2 separate regions of the Homo sapiens genome follow, and region 2 is reported to be linked to region 1. Evidence: microRNA targets listed by miRTarBase, many of them from high-throughput screens and not tested one by one. Region 1 holds a microRNA gene; the other region holds the end of a gene's coding sequence.

Region 1 (5,070 bases):
CAGGTAGGAGCAATGGGGTGAGGTTGGCACTGTTCTCTGCCACACCTCACTCTCTAAGAGTCCCCCTGACTGGCCCAGGGCTTCTAAGCATCAGCCCCCTCCCACTGCGAAGGTGCAGCTAGATAAAAGCCTGGCCACGGACCGTAGGCCTCCTGGGCACCGCCGACCCCCGCAGAGCCAGTCCTACCAGCTCTGCATATATGCCGGGGGCCAGGGGGCTGGTGAGGGGTGGGGAGGCTGAGAGTGGCTCCCAAAATCCCTCCCCAGGCAAGTCCTGGATACAAGCCAGGCCAGCCTCAGGCAGGGACCGCACACTCAGGCCTCTCTCACCCCCGGCCTGGCCGCCTCTGACTTCATTTCCTGACTGCAGAGACCAGGAAGGGGGGCCACCAGACCCGGCGGCTTCAAAGGGCCGGCTCAGCCCACTCCCCCGAGCTCCCCATGTGTTAGCAATAAGGCAGCCAGCACAAGCCTGGAGATGGTGTGCCTGTGTGTGCAACATGTGTGTAGTTGTGTGTTTGTGCCAACACATGCAAGCCCAAGTACATATCCTATCAGCTATTGTGTGTGTGTGCACATGTGTATCTGGGGAGGTGCCCAGCATGAACCATGTGTCGGTGTCAGCGTGTCTGCATCTCAGTGTGGATGTGTGCACACTTTGTGGATGTGTGTGGCAATTGTGCGAGCCTACATGTTTGCAGAGCCATGCCTGTGGACTTATACTGGGGTACACATCTTACCTGCACACCGTGGTACAATGGGCTGTGTGTTTGATTTATCTAGAGCTGTCTGGGAGGAGTTATGTGTATCTGTGCACAGGCGTGTGGGGTGCTAGGCCCATGTGTGTGCTCGGTGTGGGCACATGTGTATGTAGGCTGCTGTGTCCCAGGGGAGGGGTTCAGGGATCTAGGGAGGAGGTACCCCAGGATGGGGCTCTGGGAGAGGGGAGGGGTTTTTGTCACCCATGCCCTACTTGTTCACGGGGGTCGTCTGTGTGGGCCTCGGGGACTCAAAGAGGTTGGGCATGAGCCTTGCCTAGGATCTCAGGTGGGGGGCTGGGTTTAGGGGGACCTTGCTCCCCCGTCCTGGCGTCATCCCGCCCACCCCTCTCTGCCCCCAACGCCCCCCTGGCCCATGCAGCCACATAAAGCCCTCTTTATGCCAGGCGGGTGGCCGGGAGCCCCAGAGGGCGGCTGGGGGAGGAGAGGAGGAAGTTGCACACACGGCCAGGGAACATCTGGAACCGTTCGAGAGAGGCCCCGCCACCACCCGCCCTGTGCTTCGGGGTTGGACACTAGGTAGGAGCGGCCTCCTCCCCCCACCCCTCCCTTCCTGCCGGCCGGCCCCCTCCTCAGGCCCCTCCTTCTCAGCCCCAGCTCCCGCTCACCCCTGCCACGTCAAAGGAGGCAGAAGGGGAGTTGGGAGCAGAGAGGGGACCACGGGCTGGCTGGTCTGGGGCTAGGGGGACACAGGCTGGGGTTGGGGGGTTCTCGGATCTCCAGGGGATGGGGCTGAAGCGCCCACCGGATGGACAGACACTGCTGCCTGGATGGACCAGAGGACACCTCCACTCCGTCTACCCAGTGTTTAGACTATCTGTTCAGGACTCCCAAATTGTACAGTAGTCTGCACATTGGTTAGGCTGGGCTGGGTTAGACCCTCGGCACCGCCGCCACTGGAGAGCTGGACCGACCCCTGCCTGCCATCCCAGAACCGGAGCCTGGAGCCAGGGGGTTGGGGCACAGGGCGGGCTGGGAGGAGGCACAGATGGATGGGGGTGCCACCCTGTGTGGGACTGGTTGGGGGTAGCGGTGATGGGGGAAGGGTGGCCGAGGAAGACTGAGAGGATGGGGGGGTCAATGGGGACTGGGGATGTGGGCAGCCGCCGGTCTGCCCAAAGAGCCTCCCTCACCCCAAAACCTGAGGGCTGGTGGTTGAGTAGAGAAGTACAGACCACTCTCCCACCAGCCTGGACCACCTCCACATCCCCAGTGGTCCTAGTGCAAGAATCCACTCACATTCAACACACACGCACCTTGACACTCACAGCCCCAGAACTCACACACATGAGCACCCCCACACTTTCAATCTCACACCCATGTCCCACACGGACACACACAAGTGCATGCACACACACCCATACACACCCTCACAACTGGAACACTCCCCCCATCCTCACATCCCAAAGACATACACAGATTCTCAAACACCCCATACTCACACCCTCCCTCCTAGAGCCCCCTCCCCACACACACCTGCTTTTACACCCCAAGCACAGGCAGGTGCCCAGAGTCACTCCCCAGGCACACAGATTTCACCCCCAGATGCAAATGCAGACCACATATTCCAAACACACCTAGATGCTTATACTCCAATCACACTCCTAAAAAACACCCACACACCAGACCCACAAGCCACACACACACACACACACACACACACAAACACACCCCGCCTCCCAGCACCCACAGCCCACAGCTGACTCCCATCTCCCCACATATGATTCTCAGAGCTGTTTTCGCACACGACTTAACTCAGATGTACACAAAAGCTCCAGAAAGGCCTGCAGGCTCAGGCATGAGATCAGGGGACCCCCTCAGTGGCACGTGCCCCTCCCCCACAGTGTCACCCGGTCTCCGGCCCTCAGCCCCAGGTCACATGGTCTCCCTGGCCCTGAGTAAGGAACCTCAACATGGGAGACCCCAAACCCATGGGGGCATCTAGGGAGCCTGCAGAGAGACCGGCAGGAAGCCACCCCCCACCCGCACCCCATGCCACTGCACACTCCATCCCTTCCAGGGGCCCCCATGGTGGGGGAGGCCAGGGTTGGGGTAATGAGGTCCAGATGGCTTGGCGCCCCCGCCAGTGACGACAGAGGGCCCCTCCCAAGGTGGAGAGTTGGGGCCCCTGCCCAGGACAAACTTGGAGGAGACAGGGACCTGGGAGGGGGCTTGGAGGCCAAAATCACAGGCCCCACCCAGAGCCCCGCTCCCCCGTTGAGGATGCTGTAGCCTCCAACAGCCCCCTCAGGAAGAAGAGGGTCCCTTCCCCCACTCCTTGGCCAGCTGGAGTTCATTACCACAAGCCCACCCCCAGCCCTCCCCATTCTCTCTGGTCACCTCTGGAATCCAGATGTGAAAGCCAAATAGACTCATTCTTAAAGGAGACCAGCAACAGGGGAAGGAGGTGGCAGGGGCTTCTGTGCACCCTAGTGGGCGGGGAGGGGTTTTTTGTGGCACCTCGGCAGGGCCCCCACACTCCTTGCCCCTCAGCCTGAGGGCACCCTGGTCATTTCCCTTGGACTGCAGGGGTCTAGGGGACTGGGGTGCAGGGGTTAACCGGGTGTCTGGCAGCTAGACTTGTGTGTGTCATGGGCCTGTGGGGGCCACAGAGGAGGCGGCACGCCCTGCAGCGGGAAAACAGGAAGGCTGCTGGGCTGCAGGGTCAGGGAGGGGCACCCAAGTCCCCTGCCCACCCTCCCCAGGGCGCTTAGCCCCAGGCTCCTCAGTCCTGCCAAGCTACCTTCTCCTTCCAACCTGGGTGAGAGGGTGCCTCCCCCTGAACCCCCAGGGTCACCTGCCTTGGACCCTTGCATCCCAACTCCACCCGTGGATCCTTTTTTTTTGAGATGGAGTCTCACTCTGTTGCCCAGGCTGGAGTGCAATGGTGCGATCTCGGCTCACTGCAACCTCCGCCTCCCGGGTTCAAGGCATTCTTGTGTCTCAGCCTCCCTAGTAGCTGGGATTACAGGCGCCCGCCAACACACCTGGTTAATTTTTGTATTTTTAGTAGAGATGGGGTTTCACCATTTTGGCCGGGCTGGTCTCGGACTCCTGACCGCAGGTGATCCACCTGCCTCGGCCTCCCAAAGTGCTGGGATTATAGGTGTGAGCCACCACACCCAGCCTGCCCACGGATCTTTGACGAGACATTTTAAAACCCTATTCCATGGTCTAGCCCACTCCAAGCCCATGGGAGGGTCTGAGCCTGACTCTGTCCACCAGCCCAGCCCCTTGATGACCACTGGCCCTTGACTCACCTCATCATCCTTGTACCAGGACAGATTCTCAGCAGTCAGCACAAACCAGTACTCCTTGGAGCCCCCTTTCATGATGCCAATATTATTGATAGTCAGCCAGCCCTTGCGGATGACCTGGAGGGTGATGGGGCAGGAGGTCAGTGGACAGGGCCTGAGCCTCCCCATGGGGGATGGGGTAGGCAAAGAGAGGCATTCGAAACCCCACCCCTCTCCCAGCTCTCTGAGGCCTGGCAGTCAGGGAGGGTGGGGGCCAGACCTGCCTTGGTTTGAACCACAAGTGAACAGAGTGGAAGACAGAGGAAGGCAGAGATCAGCTCAGGATAAAGAGCCTTTGACAGGCAGACCTGGCCGAGTTAAGGGACTGGAGGCCTGGGTAGGGGATGAGCTCCCTGTCACTAAAAGTATGCAAGCAGAGTTTATGGGGCCGATTGGGGAAGCCAACTGCGAGTCTTGGAAGCTTAAGGTCTCATCTGTTCTGAGATGTGTTTCTGACTTTACACATGCTGCTGCCGCCTCTGCCTAGAAAGCACTTTTTCCTTTTTGCCTGGCAAATTCCTACTCAGCCTTTGAGTATCAGCTCAGGATTCACATTCTCAGGCAGCCCCTTCCTGTCCCCCAGTATAAATCAGGATTCCCATAATGATCTTTGATCACTCCCTGAAGTCGACTTCTGTAACAAGGGCTTCGATTTTTAATTAACTTCTCTACGTGCGTGTGTGTGATTATCTGTCGATGCAGCCTCCCCTGCTAAATCATGAACTGTTGGTCACTAGTACATCCCAGCACCTTGCAGAGGGCCTGGCAGATAGTAAGTGATCAATACATATTTGTAGTATGAATAAATAAAAGCTATGATAGTACGGTTCTAAGGGTCTTTGGCTCCAGGTCCCCAGGGGCAAGGGCTGAGCCACAAAGTGCCTAGAGTAACAAGCTAAGGTCCCTTTTCATGGCAGGAAGCAGCTGTCCCCAGGACTGTCCAGAGCCATGGCCACGGTCCAGGGCCTGTGGATTCTACTTCAGGGGTAGGGTCA
Region 2 (5,057 bases), not on the chromosome of region 1:
AGTGATATGATTGATTGATGAGAATCACCAGAGCACTTGCCAGAGTTTCAGCTTCTCCCTGGGCCAAAGTGAAGTTTGCTTTACACAGTAAATGTGCTCTGTGCAGGTCCTGAATTTAGAAGGCTGTGCTGTGTCATCCTGCTCTGTAAATGGCCAGTAGGACCCCCGCCCCTTCTCAAGGCACATTACCCGTTTAAAACGGGGGAGGCAAGAGCACAAAGCGCCCACCTATTCACCGAAGAGCATGTATATAACTTAGGGCCTTCCATCCTTAAACAACAGGACCTTCCTTGCTCTTAAGGAAAAGGAAACAGGTTCAGAGACGTTAATTCATTGCCAAGGTCACACAGATAATGGGTCCAGCGAAGAGTGGTGTCCGAGCCCAAGGCAGCAGGCCTTTGGCCACTGCAGTGTTAAACAGCACAGCTGGTGTGGAAGTCCGGTGCTGAGTCCTGGGTACCTGGACTCGGAGGGAAGCTGGCTGCAGGGGGAAGGGGCTGCGCAGTTGTGGATGTACCTGTCGTCTGCTGGGGGGCGTGCGGGTGGACACAGTCCCCCGGCCTGGGGAGCCTCGTGGGAGAATTAAGAGTTACTCCGGGCCAAATGGCCGGAGTTGTCAGATCTGGCAGCGTCTTCGCTGGGGCTCCAGGGAGCTGCTGCTGGGGTGGAAGCTCTCACACTCTTTCTCCACGTGCCCTTTCCAGTTCCCTGACATCGTGGAGTTCTGCGAGGCCATGGCCAACGCCGGGAAGACCGTAATTGTGGCTGCACTGGATGGGACCTTCCAGAGGAAGGTAAGGCGTCTGATCCAGGTCTGGAGCTGGGATTGAGGAGGGCAAGAGGCTTCTGGATGGGCACAGAGACACCAGCTCTGGGTGACCAGGGCTCAGCCACCACAGGGTTACGGCCGAGCTGCTCAGGCCTTGGCTGAGCCAAGGGACTCCATGGTCTGTGCAGACTGCGTGCCATCTGTTGCGGCAGGTGCTTTGAATTGGCAAAGGGACAGAGCCGGGCATGGTGCTCTGGGGGTTGGGGGAAGGACTAAGGTCAGAGCAAACTCTCCTGGCTTCAGTGCTTGTGAATCAGAGGGTTTAAAAGAAAAACCCACCTGGTAAGGTGGCTGAGCGCCCTCTGTCTTTCCATGGGAGCGCAGCCATTTGGGGCCATCCTGAACCTGGTGCCGCTGGCCGAGAGCGTGGTGAAGCTGACGGCGGTGTGCATGGAGTGCTTCCGGGAAGCCGCCTATACCAAGAGGCTCGGCACAGAGAAGGAGGTAGCTCCACCTGCCTTCCCTGCAGGCCGGCGGGGTGGGGGTATGGCTCTGCCTCCTTCCTGTCCTGGCCCTTCACCCATCCCCTGTCCCTGCGGCCAGGTCGAGGTGATTGGGGGAGCAGACAAGTACCACTCCGTGTGTCGGCTCTGCTACTTCAAGAAGGCCTCAGGCCAGCCTGCCGGGCCGGACAACAAAGAGAACTGCCCAGTGCCAGGAAAGCCAGGGGAAGCCGTGGCTGCCAGGAAGCTCTTTGCCCCACAGCAGATTCTGCAATGCAGCCCTGCCAACTGAGGGACCTGCGAGGGCCGCCCGCTCCCTTCCTGCCACTGCCGCCTACTGGACGCTGCCCTGCATGCTGCCCAGCCACTCCAGGAGGAAGTCGGGAGGCGTGGAGGGTGACCACACCTTGGCCTTCTGGGAACTCTCCTTTGTGTGGCTGCCCCACCTGCCGCATGCTCCCTCCTCTCCTACCCACTGGTCTGCTTAAAGCTTCCCTCTCAGCTGCTGGGACGATCGCCCAGGCTGGAGCTGGCCCCGCTTGGTGGCCTGGGATCTGGCACACTCCCTCTCCTTGGGGTGAGGGACAGAGCCCCACGCTGTTGACATCAGCCTGCTTCTTCCCCTCTGCGGCTTTCACTGCTGAGTTTCTGTTCTCCCTGGGAAGCCTGTGCCAGCACCTTTGAGCCTTGGCCCACACTGAGGCTTAGGCCTCTCTGCCTGGGATGGGCTCCCACCCTCCCCTGAGGATGGCCTGGATTCACGCCCTCTTGTTTCCTTTTGGGCTCAAAGCCCTTCCTACCTCTGGTGATGGTTTCCACAGGAACAACAGCATCTTTCACCAAGATGGGTGGCACCAACCTTGCTGGGACTTGGATCCCAGGGGCTTATCTCTTCAAGTGTGGAGAGGGCAGGGTCCACGCCTCTGCTGTAGCTTATGAAATTAACTAATTGAAAATTCACTGGTTGGTGGACGCACATTTCTCTTTCACCTGGGTTTCCCTGGGTCTCATGGACAGCTCCAACTTGATTTGGGTGGGGATTTTCTTCCAGATCTTTTTTTCTTTTGTTTTGAGACAGGGTCTCTGTCGCCCAGGCTGGAGTGCAGTGACGCAATCCCTGCTCACTGCAGCCTCTGCTTCCCCAGTTGAAGTGATTCTCCCCCGTCAGCCTCCCAAGTAGCCGATATTACAGGCGTGTACCACCACACCTGGCTAATTTTTGTATTTTTAGTAGAGACGAGTTTTCACCATGTTGGCCAGGCTGGTCTCGAACTCCTGGCCTCAAGTGATCCACCTGCCTCGGCCTCCCAAAGTGCTGGGATTACAGGCGTGAGGCACTGCACCTGGCCCCCAGATCTTTCTGTAGTAATACTGATCTCTTAACCACAACCCTTGAACTGAGAAATGATCATGGGGTGTGTCCTAAGCAGAACATCATCTGCCTTCCTGTCTGGGCCAGTGTCAGGACAAAAATGGGTGTACAGAGGAGCCCGGGGCCCAGTTGGAAGGAAGAGGCACTGTCCTGCCCGCTGGGCCTGTGAGGTCAGGTTTTGTTTGTGAAACAAACTCTTGGTAATTCAGGAGTCAAGACATCTCTCAGCTGTGCCTCAGAGATGGGCTGTTGGCAGCTCACTTGGGGGCAAGCATCGCTGGGGTAAGGTGTGTCCTGTGCAGGCAGGGTCACCACTCCCAGGGCCTCCCCAGCCTCCCTCTCCCCTTCGCTAGTGATGTGTCCCAAGCCAAAGCCATCGGGTGAGGCTGGGAGCAGTGCCCTGTTAGTTCGTACTGGGGATTTTTAAACAATCGGGACTTGCCGATGACAGCTCCCTCTGTCATTGCTCAAAAGAAGAAGCCAGAAGTTGCTTTAGGGCCTTGACCTCTTCCAGAGATGGGCCTTATCTCCGAGGGGTGGGCTGGACGGCCAAGGCCGTGTCCCAGGAAGGCTCCAGAGGTGCTGACCCTGGAGGAAGGTAGAAACCTGGTCTTACCTATGGTACCCCTATTCAGTGCAAGAAAGGGGCATTCACCGACAACTCCCAGGTACCCCCACCCCCACTCTAGGAAGGGAGCAGCAGGACCCTGGCACTGCAGGCCAGAAAAATCATCTTGTTTACAAGCTGAGCACAGTTACTATTTTAAGATGTTGATGAAAGGCTTGTGCGGAATGCGACCCCAGACAGAGGGAAGGGGGCCAGCCAGGCAGGCTGGAGGGGGCGGATTGCCACTGCCTTGTTCAAACTACAAGTTCCATAAAGCCAGCCCCTAAGGGTGTACCCAGAGTGGAGTCTTCCTCCAACCCCTAGGCTGTGGCTCAACCAATGACTGGAGACTGAATGAGAAAACATTTATTCCGTCTCCAAACAGCATCCCAGGCCGGGCATCTCCCCCACGATTTTATAATACACTCGGCACAGACAGAGTCTGGGAGCCATGGGGCACCCCTGCCCTCCCCAGGCTTCCTAAGTAACAACTGCAGAATATTTACATAAAGCTGGGTGTTGTCAGGCAAAGCCCTTCCCTGCTGCCAGGGGTGGGAGCAAGGAGGAAGTGCCATGAGCACCAGCCCCGCCCTCACACCACGGGAGGCAGCCCAGAGGCCACCGGCACAGGGTGGTGGCCCCCAGATCATACAGCAGTGGGCACAGGGGAAGCAAACCTGAGTGAGGACACAAGAGCCTGGTCCGGCTCCGCTGCACAGGGCAGGTGTGATGGCCCCCACGAGTCTTTGGCAGAGAACGCAGATAATAGCGGCTCCCACGGCCTGACCCGGGCCGGGGGGAAGCTGAGGCACTTGTCAGTAGCACATGGGCACCTGCTGGCTTCTAGCCACTGCAGGCGGGGCTGAGGTCATTAAAAGCGAGGAAAAACACTAGCTAAAAACCCTTTCCTAAAAGTGCCCTGGAGGAGTGAGCGGCTGACTGAAGCCCTCTGGGCACAGGCACTTGGGGTGTGGCTCTGCCAGCCCCCGCCAGGCTATGAGGCTCCTTAGCTGTGTGTCAGCTGCACAGGATGGAACAGGTGAAAGAGAGGGGCTGGCAGTTCCAGGAGGCTCATGGGAAAGTCCAGGGCAGAGGGGAGGGCCCTCTCTGTCCCCCTTCCCACGCTAACCGCCGCTCAGTACACAGGGGGCGGCTGGTAGCCCTCGGTGGTCTCCGCGTTCTGGGTGAAGGGTGGCTGTTGGTAGTTGTCCACAGATGCACCTGGGTAGGAGGCGTAGGCAGTGTTGGGGTCCGGAGTGGGGTCAACGTAATTCTGGATGAAGTCGTCCACGCCAGCCTTGTAGCGCTGGTAGGCCAGGGAGGCCAGCACACCCTGCAGGGGGAGCACAGCAGGGTACAGGTGGGTGGGGGACCCCACCCTCCACCACCCTTGACCCAAGAACCGGCCCCTGGCCATCCTACCCAGGAGAAGATGGAAAAGAAGCTGAAGGTGATGGCTGCCCTCACAGAGTCGGCCCCCACCAGCACGTCCTTCGGGTTGGTGACTGCCCACTGGTTGGTGAGGAAGCAGAAACCAACAAACCACAGGAAGGTCCAGAGAGCTGGGGGAGGACGGGTGAAGCGTCAGTTCCATGGAAAGGGAGGGGCTTTCCAGGACTCTGGGAGGGGACGCGGGCAGGTAGGGCAGGGACCTCCCGGGGGAGCCTCCACACTATGGAGGGGAGGACTTGGAAGCCGGGCCGGGAGCCACCTCCAAAGTCCCCCACACTCGGGCCTTGGCAGGGTGGGCCACAGCAGACAGCCTAGGGGACAAAAGGGGCAGAGGCAAAGCCCATCTGCTCGGGT

The links. Region 1 holds the annotated microRNA hsa-miR-199b-3p (ACAGUAGUCUGCACAUUGGUUA, at 1,619-1,640, shown strand). A microRNA usually pairs through its seed, bases 2 to 8, with sites in the 3' UTR of a target mRNA and lowers its output. Matches are read on the target gene's strand: a 7mer-m8 pairs with bases 2 to 8, a 7mer-A1 pairs with bases 2 to 7 and ends in A, and an 8mer does both.
Region 2: miRTarBase lists SYNGR2 as a target of hsa-miR-199b-3p. Seed matches in the 3' UTR shown: 7mer-A1 at 4,067-4,073.

Annotation. Positions count from the first base shown.
Region 1 is chr9:128,241,315-128,246,384 of GRCh38, reverse strand. It overlaps MIR199B (microRNA 199b), which reads left to right and starts at 1,555; the gene lies at 1,555-1,664. DNM1 (dynamin 1) reads right to left here. Exons shown (of 22, transcript NM_004408.4): 15 at 4,040-4,153. MIR3154 (microRNA 3154) reads left to right here and starts at 1,355; the gene lies at 1,355-1,438.
Region 2 is chr17:78,171,266-78,176,322 of GRCh38, reverse strand. It overlaps SYNGR2 (synaptogyrin 2), which reads right to left. Exons shown (of 4, transcript NM_004710.7): 3 at 4,674-4,813; 4 at 3,603-4,584. The coding sequence ends at 4,387. TK1 (thymidine kinase 1) reads left to right here. Exons shown (of 7, transcript NM_003258.5): 5 at 705-794; 6 at 1,154-1,273; 7 at 1,373-2,232. The coding sequence ends at 1,564. Among named protein-coding and RNA genes, the nearest start is that of SYNGR2, 5.2 kb to the right of the region's middle. RefSeq lists enhancers at 511-560, 1-561, 571-690, 711-890, 1,701-2,000 and 4 more.